Homo sapiens: one gene and its partners. The protein of the gene in region 1 interacts with the protein of each later gene in a biochemical or structural test. Each region holds a gene or a part of one and is shown on either strand. Other genes may lie near its edges.

Evidence for each region.
Region 2: the proteins of MME (region 1) and EZR form a complex in vitro, tested with the Homo sapiens proteins (one study listed by BioGRID).
Region 3: of the proteins of MME (region 1) and AGT, one has a biochemical effect on the other in vitro, tested with the Homo sapiens proteins (one study listed by BioGRID).
Region 4: the proteins of MME (region 1) and LYN form a complex in vitro, tested with the Homo sapiens proteins (one study listed by BioGRID).

Annotation. Positions count from the first base shown.
Region 1 is NC_000003.12:155,111,319-155,114,818, forward strand, and holds part of MME (neprilysin), read left to right. Parts: intron 1-3,500. UniProt on the Homo sapiens protein: Thermolysin-like specificity, but is almost confined on acting on polypeptides of up to 30 amino acids. Biologically important in the destruction of opioid peptides such as Met- and Leu-enkephalins by cleavage of a Gly-Phe bond.
Region 2 is NC_000006.12:158,774,086-158,778,249, reverse strand, and holds part of EZR (ezrin), read left to right. Parts: intron 1-1,745; coding exon 1,746-1,842; intron 1,843-4,164. UniProt on the Homo sapiens protein: Probably involved in connections of major cytoskeletal structures to the plasma membrane. In epithelial cells, required for the formation of microvilli and membrane ruffles on the apical pole. Along with PLEKHG6, required for normal macropinocytosis.
Region 3 is NC_000001.11:230,707,623-230,711,786, reverse strand, and holds part of AGT (angiotensinogen precursor), read left to right. Parts: intron 1-933; 5' UTR 934-963; coding exon 964-1,792; intron 1,793-4,164. UniProt on the Homo sapiens protein: Essential component of the renin-angiotensin system (RAS), a potent regulator of blood pressure, body fluid and electrolyte homeostasis.
Region 4 is NC_000008.11:55,949,090-55,953,253, forward strand, and holds part of LYN (tyrosine-protein kinase Lyn), read left to right. Parts: intron 1-1,369; coding exon 1,370-1,468; intron 1,469-1,591; coding exon 1,592-1,695; intron 1,696-2,876; coding exon 2,877-3,026; intron 3,027-4,164. UniProt on the Homo sapiens protein: Non-receptor tyrosine-protein kinase that transmits signals from cell surface receptors and plays an important role in the regulation of innate and adaptive immune responses, hematopoiesis, responses to growth factors and cytokines, integrin signaling, but also responses to DNA damage and genotoxic agents.

The DNA of each region.
Region 1 (3,500 bases):
ATATTCATCAGAACAGAGAGCGCTCTTTGAAGTGATTGGATGCATCCATGCTCAGACAAGCTCGGTGGTCAAAGGGAAATTTTAAAGAGTGGCCCTGGAAGGAGTTAGCAAAGTTGCCTCTTCCTCTCTCTGCTCTGCACATCCCTCACAAACTGAATGTTATTTCTTTGGTTTGTTGTGCAGATGCAAGTAATTTAACTGTACTTTTTGCCCCCTGGGAGATGTGGGAAGTACAGTTGCTTTTACAGGATGGAGAATTTGCACTCATGATCAGAGAACTGAAACTTCCAGCCATCCTTTTTATTCAGAGTGTTTAAGGACCGGTGGTATTTCCAAATAGGCAGTAGGGCTTGTTCATGCTCTGCTTGTTCATTCTGCTTGTTCATTAATTGTTCACTACTTTTCTGAGTAGAGTTCATTGCTCTGTGATGTCGTGACAGAAGCTTTCATTTCCCCAGAAAGAGGAAGAAAACAGAAGTGCCCCCTCCAAATGGCATAGCCTTCACAACATTCAGTTTAAATGTTTTTAAGTATCTTAAAAGAGAAGAGTTATATATTGCTAAGTGTGTTCTTAGAATGTCTGTAGTTAGCACTTCTTTCAGGCTCTAGTTTTCTGGTTTTTCACTTTACATAATAATCCTCTATGTATTTAGGATCTTTATTTTTCACCTTTCCCGTTACCATATTTTTATTTCCTTCAAAATTCGAGGGAATTGCTTTTTCTCTCTACCTTTTTTAGATCAGTTTCCTAGTCTTTAACTGAGGTGTTAAAGTTGGAGTTTTTACTGGCAAGTCTTGACTGAGCACAGTGTTAGGCTCTGTGAGAGAGAATATGCATTTTCTATTTTCACAGAGCCACAGTCCAGGTGAGGAGATAATGAATTTGCATGCGAAAAATGAATATGTTGTGAGCTGATACAGACTTTTGTCAGGCCAGTCTTTCATAAAGAAGTATTTGGAATGGGCTTTGAAAATGCCTGAAATTCCAAAATGAAATAATATGAAATAATATTTATTAGTACGTATAGGGGCTGGGTAACATGCTCAAAGTTACAGAGGCAGAAAACCATAAGGTGTCTCACAGAAACTGAATATACTCATTTAACTGTGACAGATGGCTCATGCGAGAAAGTAGCAAAGGAGAAGCTTCATTCGTTCTATTAGTGTTAGAATGTGCTATGGAATCTGGATTTTATTATGATTGCAAAAGGATGGTATTGAAAACTTTGGAGTGGAAAATGACATTCTGAAGTATTTTGAGAATATGAATCTGCCTGTGGAGTACAGAATGGACATAGGTAAGAAGAGGCCTGGGGCCACAACTTTGTCAAAAGGGCACAAATAGAGTCTGAGAGAAAGAGGGTTTGAGACAGAATGGAAACAATGGGAAAGATGGAATGGACTCTGGAGGCAATGAACTGAGAACGGATCTGACCTCTGTGGCAAGGGGAGAGGAGGTGAGTGATGGGCTGTAAGAGAAGGTGGTAAGAAGACTCATAGATGATTCAGTCACACATAACCATAATTGCACCCCTGTTACCTAGGTGCTAGGTGATACAAAGAGATTAATCACATCAACAAAATGGTTAGGTAGACAGAGTAGGTATTTACAATGAAAAACTCAAAGTAGTCTCACATTGAAGACAGAGTGAGGCAATGAGCTCTCAGGAGTCAAGAGAAATATTCCTTGAAGTTTGGAGTCACAGAAGCATCAGGGAAGAGATGGAACATGAGCTGAATGTTGAATGATGGGTAGAATTTGGAAAGAATGACAGGGGCAATCAAAGCTGTGGGATGAGGAGGTTAAAGCAAAGACACAGGACTAAGAAAACACAAGGAGTGTTTGTGACACATTGACGAGGGCCATCTGGTTGGAACAGAGTTTGCATAAACCACCAAAAGAGGAAAAGGGGAAGGTAGGGTGATACGTTTATTCTGGTAAAGGTTTAGACACCAAGCTAAAGATTTTATTTTTATTTCTGAGATAGTCTCTCTCTGTCACCCAGGCTGGAGTGCAGTGGCGCTGTCTTGGTTCACTGCAACCTCCACCTCCCGAGTTCAAGCTATTCTCCTGCTTTAGCCTCCTGAGTAGCTGGGACTACAGGTGCCTGCCACCATGGGCAGCTAATTTTTGTATTTTTAGTAGAGTTGGTGTTTCATCATGTTGGCCAGGCTGGTATTGGACTCCCAAAGTGCTGGAATTACAGGCGTGAGCCACTGTGCCCTGCCAAGCTTTTATAATTTAACCTGGGAAATGTCAAGCCACTGACATTTTTCAGCAAGGTTGTGGCCAGTGTCAAAGAGTCTTTCGGGAAGTTTGGTTTGTGGAAGATGTGTAGAATATATCAAGATGAAGAACTGGGTGACTTCTAGTCAAAAAGGAATGATGATATAAACCAGGTACCAATCAGAATGAGAGGTATGGAAGAGGGGCAAAGGAATTACCAGTAAACCAAGGGGAAATAGAAATACAGTTTTACCCAAAGTTTCAAATCCAGGAGGCTATGATAGCAACTGTGCTGTATACTAAGGCATACAACTCATGAGATGACTGGTTTGGTAACAGTCCTGAGCGTTTTGTTTTAAAGAGCTGGGTCCTGAGGTTCCAGACAAGCAAACATGCCAAAAAAGTGGTTCAATGGGGGGGCTTGAGGCTCAGCTGGAAACCATGTTTACCATACCAAGTTTAAAAAATCCACACAGCTCAGCAATTGTTTGAAGTTTTTAATTAATTAATTAATTCATAAAGTGAAGTATTTTCAAAAGCTCATCTGAGAGCTTATATTCTCTTGATACAGATGAATTCTCAATTGCTCTTTTGTTTTCATTGCAAAACAGTTCAACTTGTATGAGACTCAAAGTGGGGAGGGCAGGAGCAGAATTTTCTCTGTTCCGGGTATAGACATTATGGGTATTGGGCCATATTCTCCTCTTCGTTGGTAATAATTCCTATTTTATACATCTTTCTATCAATTGCAGCTCCTACCAGAGTCAACGTCTTGATTGTAAATACTCAGTGTTGGTTGATTTGCATTTTCATCATAGTCCTGAAAGATAAAAGTGGACCTAAGAAAAACTAATAAGCTTACAGCCAGTTTTATAATGACAGACTCTATATAAACAAATGCAAATTGGATGTCAAATTTGAATTACAAAATTTATTTGAGCAAGGTCCAGGAAGTAATAACAGTGTCTTCAGATCTTTTCTAAAATGATAAAAATTCATTAACAATCTTCCATGGCTTGGAGTCTCAGAGACTTTCAAAAGTCACAGCACTTTGAAGAGCAGAGTTGGCAACTAAAGTTATCAGAGTGAAGAATGGCATGCTAACCTCAGGTGCAGGATGGCCAACTCAAAGTAGACCTCTATTCTTTGTTCTTCTGAGATAGGAACTAGCCAGAAACTTAGTTATTCAGGGGTGGGGTGGGAAGGCTGTGGGACCCAGGGTGGAAGGACCCACACAGTTCAAAATAAAACGAACCAACTATAGTGAAGGAAA
Region 2 (4,164 bases), on another chromosome or scaffold:
TCCCAGCCCCTTGAAGTTTCAGGATGCGGCACGCTGGCTCACAGTGCTATGTGCTGTGGGCGGAGCCTCCGGAGCTTGGATCCTAGCTTCTCTGTTGGTGCCAGCAGGCTGCTCTTGTGTTTTGGGAGAAAGTGCTCCAGAAGCAACACATGCCTACCTGGTGCCACTTTCACAGCCTTTCAATGTAAGGAGGACATAGGCTGAAGTCAGTAGCAGGGCAAGGTGGTATCTGGAGTTCCCCTTTAATGCTCTGAAACCTGTAAAGAAAATTACATCTCGAAGATAAAAGAACAAACTCATTGCATGTCTGTTTGAATGCCAGGTGTGTTTTTTTTTAATGGGGATTGGTGATTCTAGAGCATAGCACTGTAAAAGAAAGGATGTATACAAAAGCTTTGACATTTAGAACCATGGTCTGGCCAGTGTCCTGCCATCATTCCTGCAGGCACACCATGACTGACTGCGCTAATTCCCCAGAAGGGCCATGTCAGGCTTACATGTTTGCCCTCAGCCTACAGAGTCCACCCCACTGCCTTGATCTAGTTGATGTGATCATAACGAAACCTGTATTGCTCATCAGTATTGAAGCTGTTGGTAGGCCATAGATTGCTTGACCTTCCTGCTACTTCTAAAATGAAGGTTTTTGTGGGATGTTGGAAAGGACTGCTTTGGAGGGCAGCATTGTTGGATGGTGGTTTTGAGGATTTGTCGTTATTTCCAGAATGGCATTATCCCTGGTAAAATGTGTTGGAAGAATAGGGTGGGAAGTGTCAGGTGAGCAGAGCAATGTGGTCTTGAAGTCACATGATGAACTTGGGAATGCTAATAAAAGCCAGAGTCTGGCCAGTCATGGCATTGCATTGGTTAAGTAGGATTAGCCCTGTGGGGCCTTCATTAGGGCGGTTAGTTTGAAGGCTGTCCTGGAAGTTGGAGAGTGACATGGGAAGATGTCTGTCCAGCCAGGAGAACACACACTGGAATGAGAACCAGAGGAGCAGAATGCATAGCAAGGCCTCTGTCCGTTTCTCTTGGCAAGCTCTGTTGAGTATGGCACGTCTAGGAACGTGATGGGATCTTGGCCCTCCCTGTTGGTTTCATAGAACTAAATGATCAGTAACTTAAATAACATTCAACAGTCTGTAGCAGAAGAGCCTGTATGTTAAGAGAGGCCTCAAGGGAAAGGGAGGCAGCCCTGGGGAACTGTGTGTTGAAAGGTGGGTCTGAACCGTGGAGTTTGGGGCTGGATTTGACAGCTCTTGGATGCTGAGTTAAGGACTGTGTTGACATGGGAGGAGAGGAAATTAATCAGATCAGCAGACTGAAAGTAGGGCTGCTCCAGCACACAGCTTGAGAGTGGGCTCTGGCAGGATGAGAGGTAGGTGAGTGTGGTGATGTGATGTGGGAATGAACAGCAGAAGATACCTGAGGGGGAGGGTCAAGGTACCTGGGTAGGAATTTCAGTTGACCTCGAGATCACCAGCCTGGGTAATCATAGGTGCCCTAGACTGAGGAAAAACCAAAGGAAATGGGAACAGATTAAGGTTGCAGATGCCTTGCAGCCAACCACTTGGCTTAACCTAGGACAGGTGGGAACTATTTGATAATAGCATATAACACATTGTGCCTCTTGGGTTAGCTTCATATTATTTTAATTGAACTAATAAGAATTGATTTGCGAATCTCTCTTAGCCAATCCAAGAACATATGTATACATCTAACCATCCACTTCTTCTTTTTAACCTCAGGTTAACCCCAAAGATTGGCTTTCCTTGGAGTGAAATCAGGAACATCTCTTTCAATGACAAAAAGTTTGTCATTAAACCCATCGACAAGAAGGCACCTGTAAGTTCCAAAGGATTCTATTCAGGGGCTACTGTTTTTCATTCTTATACTTGTCAGGGTAACGGACAAGTTATACTGTGACGAGTAGCCAGTGATAGTCCAAACTCCTCATGAGGTTACATTGAGGGCCAGAGATCCTGTGGGCCAGGCAATTGCTGCAGGGGAGACCACTTAACTTTTCAAATGATTCTCATTCCTTATGAAGAAAAGGGCAGTTCTGAGCCATTGGCCAAATGATAAGCATTTCCCAAAATGCTGTGTTTTTGGTGTGGAGAGCCAGCCTGTCCCCTTGACCACCTGGGTGCAGGGACTCTCCCCGGCACCTGACGGACAGTGGGACCTGCGAGTCTCAAGGGCCAGATTTGCCTTTCAGAGCTGTCCTGGAACTTACCCAAGATAGGGACAGTCAGACTTGCACCCAAGCATTGCTGGTGCCCAAGGTTTCATCGGGGCTTCACCCACTTCTGTTGTCAGAGGTGTGCATCCTCACACAGGTGACACTGGCAGGCAGTCATTTTGGGAGGACATGGTAAGAAGGCGACACTTTATGTCCTGAAATCTGATAGTATTGATTGTAATAGCTGCAAAGACCAGTGCATTATGTAAATTTGGTTTTATTTATTCTGCTGACATTTAAACTTTTGTTAACTCAGAATATTTGAGACATACGCACATAACTGTAGCATTGTAGAATGGGTAAGGATTTTGTTATCTAATCAGAAATCTAGTTCTCTAAAAAATTGCCACCTGAAGAAATTCTGTTACCACCTTAGAGCCTGTTCTGAATTTTACGAAAATTATAGATTGGAAAGGACTTTGTGTTCTCATGTAATTTTGGTTCCTTAGTTACAGTGTTAAGCTTGGAGAGGCAAACATGGGCTGTGGTCCATACCTTGGTTGTCTTGTTAACCCTTTTGGGACTGGGTACTGCTTAGCAATGGTAAATCCACTTAGAACAGTATGTGGTGTTATTGTCCTGTTACTTCTCCCCACATACAGGTTTGTCTAGCATAATTTAAAATCAGCAGGTCTTGACAATTTTGTGAAAGTATTTTCTTCTTTGTTAAAAACGTCTTGGCCAGGCTCAGTGGCTCACGCCTGTAATCCCAGGACCTTGGGAGGCTGAGATGGCCGAATCACGAGGTCAGGAGTTCGAGACCAGCCTGGCCAACACAGTGAAAACCCCATCTCTACTAAAAATACAAAAATTATCTGGGCGTGGTGGTGGGCGCCTGTAATCTCAGCTGCTCGGGAGGCTGAGGCAGGAGAATCGCTTGAACCCAGGAAGCAGAGGTTGCAGTGAGCTGAGATCGCCACTGCACTCAAGCCTGGGTGACAGAGCTAGACTCCGTCTCAAAAAAAAAAAAAAAAAAGGGCTCCTGCTGTTTGCAAACTCTTGGCTGCTACTCTGTGGGTAGTTGCACGGTTATTTAAAATTAAACGCGTATTGAATGCAGACTCTAAGGCTCCATGGCAGCAGTTCATATTATGCAACAGCATGAATGGAGGGTCATAGCGTCTTCATGTCACTTGGGTAGTAAGATTGGCACAGTTTAGAAGAGCAAGAAAATGCTGAAATCTCTTCATCAGTAGGCTACTACGTACTCTGTGACGCTACTGCCTTTTCAGAACACTTATTAAAAATTTGACTAGAGCAGCAGCTCTGGACTAGACTGTTTCAGAATGTTTGTGCGTGTGTGTGTGTGTGTGTGTGTGTGTGTGTGTGTGTGTGTGTTTGATGATAAGTCCATCTCTTGAAAAGCTGAAGAATATTTTCATAATAAGCCCCAAGCAGAAGCCATTGTAACGCATCTCGTGCATGTGCCTTTATTATAGAGTAGCCTCATGTGAAGCCATCTCGTAAGCAAAAGAAACATTCGCTGGTGGCACGCTGTCCCAGGCACTCTTCCAGGGCTGTGTGCACCATCAACAAGGCAAAGCTCCTACCCTGGTGAGCCTACATTTACGTGAAGGAAAGGGTTAAAAAGGCAACTGAGATGCTTCCTGGTAGTAAATTTAACAGTACAGCTGTGATTAAAAACTAAGCCGGATCAGAAGATGGGGGTGAGATTCCTTTAGGCAGGTTGGGCAGGAGCCACACTGAGGAGGCAGCATTTGCCTTGAGTGGGCACTGCTGGTTTGAGGAGGTGGAGTTCTGTCACCCCCACAGCACCCCAGGGCTGCTCGAGGCACTGCCCCACCTCAGTCTGTAAACTTTGGGCAGAAGAAGTTCAAGTTTTCGACATCGAACTTTCTTGTAAAAAAGAAGAGGCCCAAAGTTTGAGGCGGTGGGATTCCTTATCTTGTGTTGACTTTCACGGG
Region 3 (4,164 bases), on another chromosome or scaffold:
CAACTATCATTGGGCAAGCCATGCTAGGTATGCATGCCTTTGGGGCTCTGCAGGGGATAGCGCTATGCAGGGATGGTTGAGAGCTGGTTTTGGGGTTGAGACACGTGGGAAATACTTGGACTTTGGGCTGAGCCTGTGGTGCTCAATCCCGGCTGCATGTTGGGACCACAGGGAGATGACAAAACCATCCCCAGCCCTCACCCTAGGGCCCTCGAATGAGCATCTCAGGGGTCTAGGAGGCCTCCACAAAGACCTACTGATTGGCACACACTTGTTTCTCTAGGAAGAGAACTTACAGCTGCAGGCAGGAGCATGTCTTAATCTGCTTGGGCTGCCATAAGTACCACAGACTGGGAGGGTTTAACAACAGAAATGTGTTATCTCACAGTTCTGGAAGCTAGAAGCCTGGGAGCCAGCCATCAGCAGAGTTGGTTTCCTCTGGGTCCTCTATCCTTGGCTTGTAGATGGCCGTCTTCTCTCTGTGTCCCCACATGGTCTTCCCTCTGTGTCCCCACATGGTCTTCCCTCTGTGTGTGTCCATGTCCTCATCTCCTCTTCTCATAAGGACACAGGTCATATTAGATCAGGGCTCACCCTCATGGCCTCATTTTAACTTAATCATCTCTTTAAAGATCCTGTCTCCAAATAATGGTCACATTCTGAGGTCCTGGGGTTGAGGACTTCAACACGGGCATTATGGCCGTTGGGGGAGGTAGGACATAATTCAGCTGATATTGGTGCATTTTGCACTTGGATCATGTAGATATTTTCCATGGAGCTTTGAATCCATTTCTTCTTTTTTTTGTAGACATGAATGGATTTATTCTGGGCTAAATGGTGACAGGGAATATTGAGACAATGAAAGATCTGGTTAGATGGCACTTAAAGGTCAGTTAATAACCACCTTTCACCCTTTGCAAAATGATATTTCAGGGTATGCGGAAGCGAGCACCCCAGTCTGAGATGGCTCCTGCCGGTGTGAGCCTGAGGGCCACCATCCTCTGCCTCCTGGCCTGGGCTGGCCTGGCTGCAGGTGACCGGGTGTACATACACCCCTTCCACCTCGTCATCCACAATGAGAGTACCTGTGAGCAGCTGGCAAAGGCCAATGCCGGGAAGCCCAAAGACCCCACCTTCATACCTGCTCCAATTCAGGCCAAGACATCCCCTGTGGATGAAAAGGCCCTACAGGACCAGCTGGTGCTAGTCGCTGCAAAACTTGACACCGAAGACAAGTTGAGGGCCGCAATGGTCGGGATGCTGGCCAACTTCTTGGGCTTCCGTATATATGGCATGCACAGTGAGCTATGGGGCGTGGTCCATGGGGCCACCGTCCTCTCCCCAACGGCTGTCTTTGGCACCCTGGCCTCTCTCTATCTGGGAGCCTTGGACCACACAGCTGACAGGCTACAGGCAATCCTGGGTGTTCCTTGGAAGGACAAGAACTGCACCTCCCGGCTGGATGCGCACAAGGTCCTGTCTGCCCTGCAGGCTGTACAGGGCCTGCTAGTGGCCCAGGGCAGGGCTGATAGCCAGGCCCAGCTGCTGCTGTCCACGGTGGTGGGCGTGTTCACAGCCCCAGGCCTGCACCTGAAGCAGCCGTTTGTGCAGGGCCTGGCTCTCTATACCCCTGTGGTCCTCCCACGCTCTCTGGACTTCACAGAACTGGATGTTGCTGCTGAGAAGATTGACAGGTTCATGCAGGCTGTGACAGGATGGAAGACTGGCTGCTCCCTGATGGGAGCCAGTGTGGACAGCACCCTGGCTTTCAACACCTACGTCCACTTCCAAGGTAAGGCAAACCTCTCTGCTGGCTCTGGCCCTAGGACTTAGTATCCAATGTGTAGCTGAGATCAGCCAGTCAGGCCTTGGAGATGGGCAGGGGGCAGCCCTGCGGACATACCTGGTGACCACCCTTGAGAAGTGGGGAAGTGGCTGCTCCGCTGGGTCCCTGGATGGGCCGTCCACCTCCTGGACCTGCTGCCCTACTATGTGCACGACTATACAACATCCTTTTTCTTACATCATTTAATCCCCTTATGATGTGGTGAAGAGGTATTTGTGCCTTTGTTTACCAGTGAAGAAATAGAGACTCGGAGAAACAAAGTGCCTTGCTCAAGATGGCACAGCCACCAGTGGGGGTCCTGGGATTGAAACCCACATCTCCTGGCCCCACAGCCCAGTTCTACACTCAGAAGGGTCAGGTTCATATCTCTTGAGAAGGTCAGGAACTGGGGTCCCTGGCCCATGCAGAAATAAGCAATTGGCTTGCTTAAATCCCTTTCATGTTAGGAGGGGCATTACTGAAAACCCTCTACTACAAAGATTGTTGATTTTTTTTTTTTTTTTTATTGAGACAGGGTCTTGTTCTGTCACCCAGGCTGCAGTGTAGTGGTGCCATCATTGCTCACTGTAGCCTTGAACTCCTGGCCTCAAGCGATCCTCCCACCTCTGCCTTCCAAAGTGTTGGGATTAAAGGTGTGAGCCACTGCACCCAGCCACAGATTGCTTAAAGCATTCATTTAACAAATACTTGTTGAGGATTTGCTACTTGTAAGACTTTAAGCCTGGCATCTCAGAGGAGGCCAGAGGAGGGCTGTATAGGCCCTGCCTCCAGGCTTTTAAAGGTCAATGGGCAAATGCCTAGGATTTGGAGCTGCAGGGAAACGTGCTCCACAAGGTAACTCAGGGAAGCCTCGGGGCTCTCAGAGGACAGAGGTCACTGGGGAGCGGAGAGCAGGCCTTGCCTGGCAGTGAGGGCAACAGGGCTGGTGAAGCTAGGAGCAAGCATGATGAGCCCAGCCTGCAGAGTTTGGGGCAAGGAACGAGGATGGGGCGGTTGGCTTGGCATGAGTGTTGAACCAGAAAATGGGCCTGGGGAGGGCAGAGCTGGAGACACTTTGAACGCCATGCTTGGTAGGTGTGGGAATGGGGACGCGTTCTGTTCAGAGGTCATCCCGGAAGCCTGCCGTGTGCAGACTGGAGGCAGGGAGGATTGTTTGAAGGTTACGCAAGAGTCCAGGCACACAGTCACGGGAACACGTGCTCAGGGAGCAGCTCGGCAAATCCATGGGTGGGGTGGGGCTGAGGGGTGTGTCTAAGAGACACTGAGGAGGCTCTGTCAAGATGTTAACCTCGTGAGGGACAGAGAGCCAGGCGGGAGGTGAAAGACAAGACTGTGGAGAAAGAGGTTCAGTGGCGCATAGTGATTTTTCTTACCACAACAACCTCCTTGAGGTCTTTCCCTTCGGGTTCAGGGAGAGGTGATAGATGGGGGGATTGCTCAGCCCTGGCACTGACTGGTCACAGGGGCAGAGGCCAGCCCGAGGGTTGCCCGGTTGAGGGTGGCAGCACACTGTGCAGGGCAGAGCAGGGACACATGGACTTAGCCTGCTGTCCCTAGGAGAAGTGCTGGGAGGAGCGCTCACTGAGAAGGAGGGTCCTGCAGAAGGCAAAGGCAAGAAAGCCAGTGGCATCTGAAATGGGTCTCCCTTCGAAAGAGAGCACATCCACCTGACCCAGACCGCAGAGCCAGGCCAGGAGGAAGAGGAGGAAGAATAAAAAAGCCAACCACATCGGGACTCAAAGGAAGCCCAGGATCCTCGCCGGCCTCCACCGCATGCTGCCCTGACCCTGCCCCACTTCCTAACTTTGCTGGCCTCAGTTTCCGTCAAAGGAGGCAGCCACTTCCTGCCCACATGGTCTGTCCAGTGAGGAGATCGGGGGCTGTCTCGGGACCTCTAGGTTTCCCTTTAGCAATGATGTTCTATTTACATGACCTCAGCAGGCAGCTAGATGTGTCCCACTAGAGAGGACCTGAGGATCTGGGGCCTGATGGGCTCCAGGGTACCGTCTGCCCAGTGCTTGCTGTGCTCCTGAGCATGGGGCGCTGGCCCTGGTGGTTTCCATGACACCAGGTCCTGACTTGACCTCGACAGATTTACCTAGCCTCCGGATGAGAATGGTGAGCTGTGCATGTCAGACGAGCAGAGGGAAGACGGCAGCCACTCTCATGTCAAATCCCAGCGTCTTTTGGGAGGCAGCTTCCCTTTTTTAGTTTAGTTTGTTGGAAGAAAAGAATTGTCCCTTTCCCCCCTCTAAACTAAAAGCCTTGCCAGCCCAGGTGGGCAGCACCGAGGTCCCTGCAGGGAACGTGCAAGGGGA
Region 4 (4,164 bases), on another chromosome or scaffold:
CTGAGGACTCGAGCATGGTGCTGAAGCTCACTTGCTTGGAATTGTCTTATGGTTTTCTTCTTTTCATAGTGTCCATCTCTATGATAACTAGATGTTTGAACAAAGGAGTTTATAATGCATGAACTGTGGACCAGTATTCCCTTGACTCTCATTTCTATAAGGATTTGAAAGCATTTCTTAGCTATCCTGGGGCAAGTTACAAACCTTTTGTTTCTGTGAGATGGGAGCCATTTGTACCAACTCTTCTTTGTGCACCCCTGATCGCAGTGATGCGTGCTTTAGTTGTAAGGCTGTTTTCCTTTGCTTCTGTCTCTAAACATATTTTAATTCCATCACGGAGAGTGAATTTTCCCACTGGATTCTGGGGTTCCAGAGATGTTCTCCACCCGCCTTCACCATCCTAAACAAACATCTTGAGACAATTGCTATTGTAGCTGTTGAGTCTTGGATATAAACACTTTTTTCCTTTTATTTTTAGTTGACATGGAATAATTATATGCAGTCATGGGATACAGAGCGATATTTTGATACATGTATGCAGTGTGTACGGATCAAGTCAGCGTAATTAGCATATCCATCATCTGGAACATTTATTCTTTCTTTGTGTTGTGAACATTCAAAACCCTCACTCCTGGCTTCTTTTCTTTGTCTCTCTCTCTCTCTTTTTAATAGCTTTATTGAGAATTCACAATACCATACAATCCATCTACTTAAAGTGTACAATTCAGTGATTTTTTTAGTATAGTCACAGAATTGTGCAATCATCACCACAATCCATTTTAGAACATTTTAAATACCCCAAAAGGAAACCCTGCACCCCTTAGCTGTCACCTCAACTCTCCCATTCTCTGCAGCCCTAGGAAACCACGAATCTACTTTTTATCTCTGAAGACTGACCTATTCTGGATATTTCACATAAATGGAATCATACAATATGTGGTCCTTTTTGACTGCCTTCTTTTATTTAGCATAATGTTTTCAAAGTTCATCCCTGTTGTAGCATCTCTCAGCACTCCATTCCTTTCACTGCTGAGTAATACTCCACTGGATGGATATTCCAGATTTTGTCCATTCATCAGTTGATAGGCATTTTGGTTGTTTCTACTTTTTGCTTTTACAAATAAGGATGCTTTGAACATTCATGTACAAGTTTTTGTGTGGACATTATGGTTTCATCTTTCTTGGGTATATGTCAAGGAGTATAGTTGCTGGGTCCTGTGGTAAGTCTATGTTTTCTTTATTTTTAATTTTTTAATTGATATGTAATATCTGTACATAAATACATATTTATGGGATATCTGTGATATTTTGATACATGCATGGAGTATGTAATCTTTTAGCTTCTTTTTGATGTGTATTTCTATTCTAGGCATGGAGAATGGTGGAAAGCAAAGTCCCTTTTAACAAAAAAAGAAGGCTTCATCCCCAGCAACTATGTGGCCAAACTCAACACCTTAGAAACAGAAGAGTGAGTCCTCATGTGTTGTCATCTTGGTGGCTTTATTTGCCACATTGGATTTCTTGTTAATATTCTTCACCTTTTTCTTGCCGTGGAACATAATATGCAGGAAATGTTGAAATGTCTTCACAGGTGGTTTTTCAAGGATATAACCAGGAAGGACGCAGAAAGGCAGCTTTTGGCACCAGGAAATAGCGCTGGAGCTTTCCTTATTAGAGAAAGTGAAACATTAAAAGGTAGGAAATTGTTCAAAGCCTCTTTTAAAACACTATTTAGGAAATTATTTTTAGAAACTATTCTAGAGCTACTCAAGGGGAAAAAAGGGCATATAGTATGCTCTGGTAGTAAAAGTTTTATGGTTTGATAACAAATAACAAACCTCAGTGATTAGTTGTGCTACTAAAAGTAATATAGTTGAGTGTGGTGGCTCACACCTGTAATCCTAACACTTTGGGAGGCTGAGGCGAGAGGATCACTTGAGTCCAGCAGTTAGAGACCAGCCTGGGCAACACAGCAAGACCCCATCTCTACAAGAAATACAAAACTTAGCCAGGCCTGGCAGCACATGCCTATAGTCCCAGCTACTCTGGAGGCTGAGGTAGGAAGATCACCTGAACCCAGGGAAGGGAGGCTGCAGTGAGCCGTGATCACGCCACTGCACTCTAACTAGCCTGAGTGACAGAGTGAGGCACTGTCTCAAAAAAAAAAGAGAAAAGAAAAGAAAAGTACTGTAGAAAGCACACATGATTGTGGCCAGTTCTTACCAGGCTTTGTTTGCTGAGCCTTTTGCATTATTATTTGAATAAATCCTGAAGTTTTAAGACAAAGAAAATTAGGCTGGGCGTGGTGGCTCAGGCCTGTAATCCCAATGCTTTGGGAGGCCGAGACTGAGAATCACTTGAACCCAGCAGTTTGATACCAGCCTGGGCAACATAGCAAGAGCCTGTTTCTATAAGAAATTAAAAAATTAGCCAGCTGTGGTGGTGCATGATCGTAGTCTCAGCTACTTGAGAGGTTGGGGTAGAAAGATCGTTTGAGCCCAAGAGGTGGAGGCTGCAGTTAGCTATGATTGTGCCACTCTACTCTAGCCTGGGTGACAGAGCAACAACCTATTTCAAAAAAAAAAAAAAGAAAATCAAAGTAACTTAAAAAAATTTAAATGTAGCTAAATAATAATTTTAAAAAAATTATCATGAAGAAAGAAAATGGTATGTTGGCAAGCTACACAGCAAACAAAATGCCAGCTTCATTTGTCAAGTAGAATTTTTATAGGACTTTTAAAATTATGCATTTTATACAAATTTCATAAATATATGTATTTTGCATATTTGTATCACAAAATGTGTACTGCAGTTGTTGTATAATGCAGATCTTATTTGTGAGATATAAACATTTACTTACACTTTTCCCCCCATAGGAAGCTTCTCTCTGTCTGTCAGAGACTTTGACCCTGTGCATGGTGATGTTATTAAGCACTACAAAATTAGAAGTCTGGATAATGGGGGCTATTACATCTCTCCACGAATCACTTTTCCCTGTATCAGCGACATGATTAAACATTACCAAAGTAAGTAAAAACTGAAGGTTCAACAAGACAAGATATATTTGTTATGATATGTATAAGACGTCAAACGCTATTTTTATATTAAAACTTTTTATGCATCGTATTTCTCTTAGATACAGTTGCAGGTCATATTCTATAAGTGGTTCTAAATTAATCTATAGTTAGGCCAGGCACAGTGGCTCACGCCTGTAATCCCAGCACTTTGGGAGGCCAAGGCAGGTGGATCACTTGAGGTCAGGAGTTCGAGACCAGCCTGGCCAACCTGGTGATACCCCATCTCTACTAGAAAAAAAAAAAATTAGCCAGGCATAGTGGTGCGTGCCTGTAGTCCCAGCTACTCGGGAGGCTGAGGCAGGAGAATCACTTGAACACAGGAGGCGGAGATTGCAGTGAGCTGAGATCGCGCCACTGCACTCCAGCCTGGGTGACAGAGCAAGACTCTGTCTCAAAAAACAAATACTAAAATAAAAGCAATTAATTAATCTACAGTTAAATACACAAAGTAAGATTTGATCCTTGTGAATAATTCTCCCAGTCCTTCCCACCTAGTACATGCTGTTTGACATTCAGTGTTCCACAATTACCAAGAGAAAAATATATATTGTCTTTGCATATATTTTTACAATGCATCTGAATATCTGGAATAGGAATGCAGATTTGCAGATCTGTGTTTGTGTGTGTGTGTGTAAAAGTAATGTATATTCTTGGTAAAGTCAAACGGATATAACACTACCACTGAAATATTTAGAAGTGGCAGGTCAATGTCCCTGTCTCCAGTGCCACTTTGCAGTCCTGAGAAGCCTGGGCCTGAGACTCTGGGTCCCTTTCCTGTGTAATTGGAGTCAGTTGAGTGGTTGTTGCCCCGGCTCCTTTCTATGACCTGCTCGAAGGGGATGCACATTATAGGTTTGCTTGAGTCCCAAAACACGGAGAGAGCAACGTGCTTCCGATTTTGTAGATTCTTGCCTTCCTCCGCCCTCCCATTCCTGTGTGCATCCGGCACATGCTGAGGGCTTGTGGTACTCTGGCTGTGTTCTGGGGCCTGGGGTCCAGTGGTGACATGACCGAGTCCCCACTATGGTGCCCTGTGAAGCTTAATGTGGGATTAGTAATCTGAAACCACATTTTATTAAGTGTGACA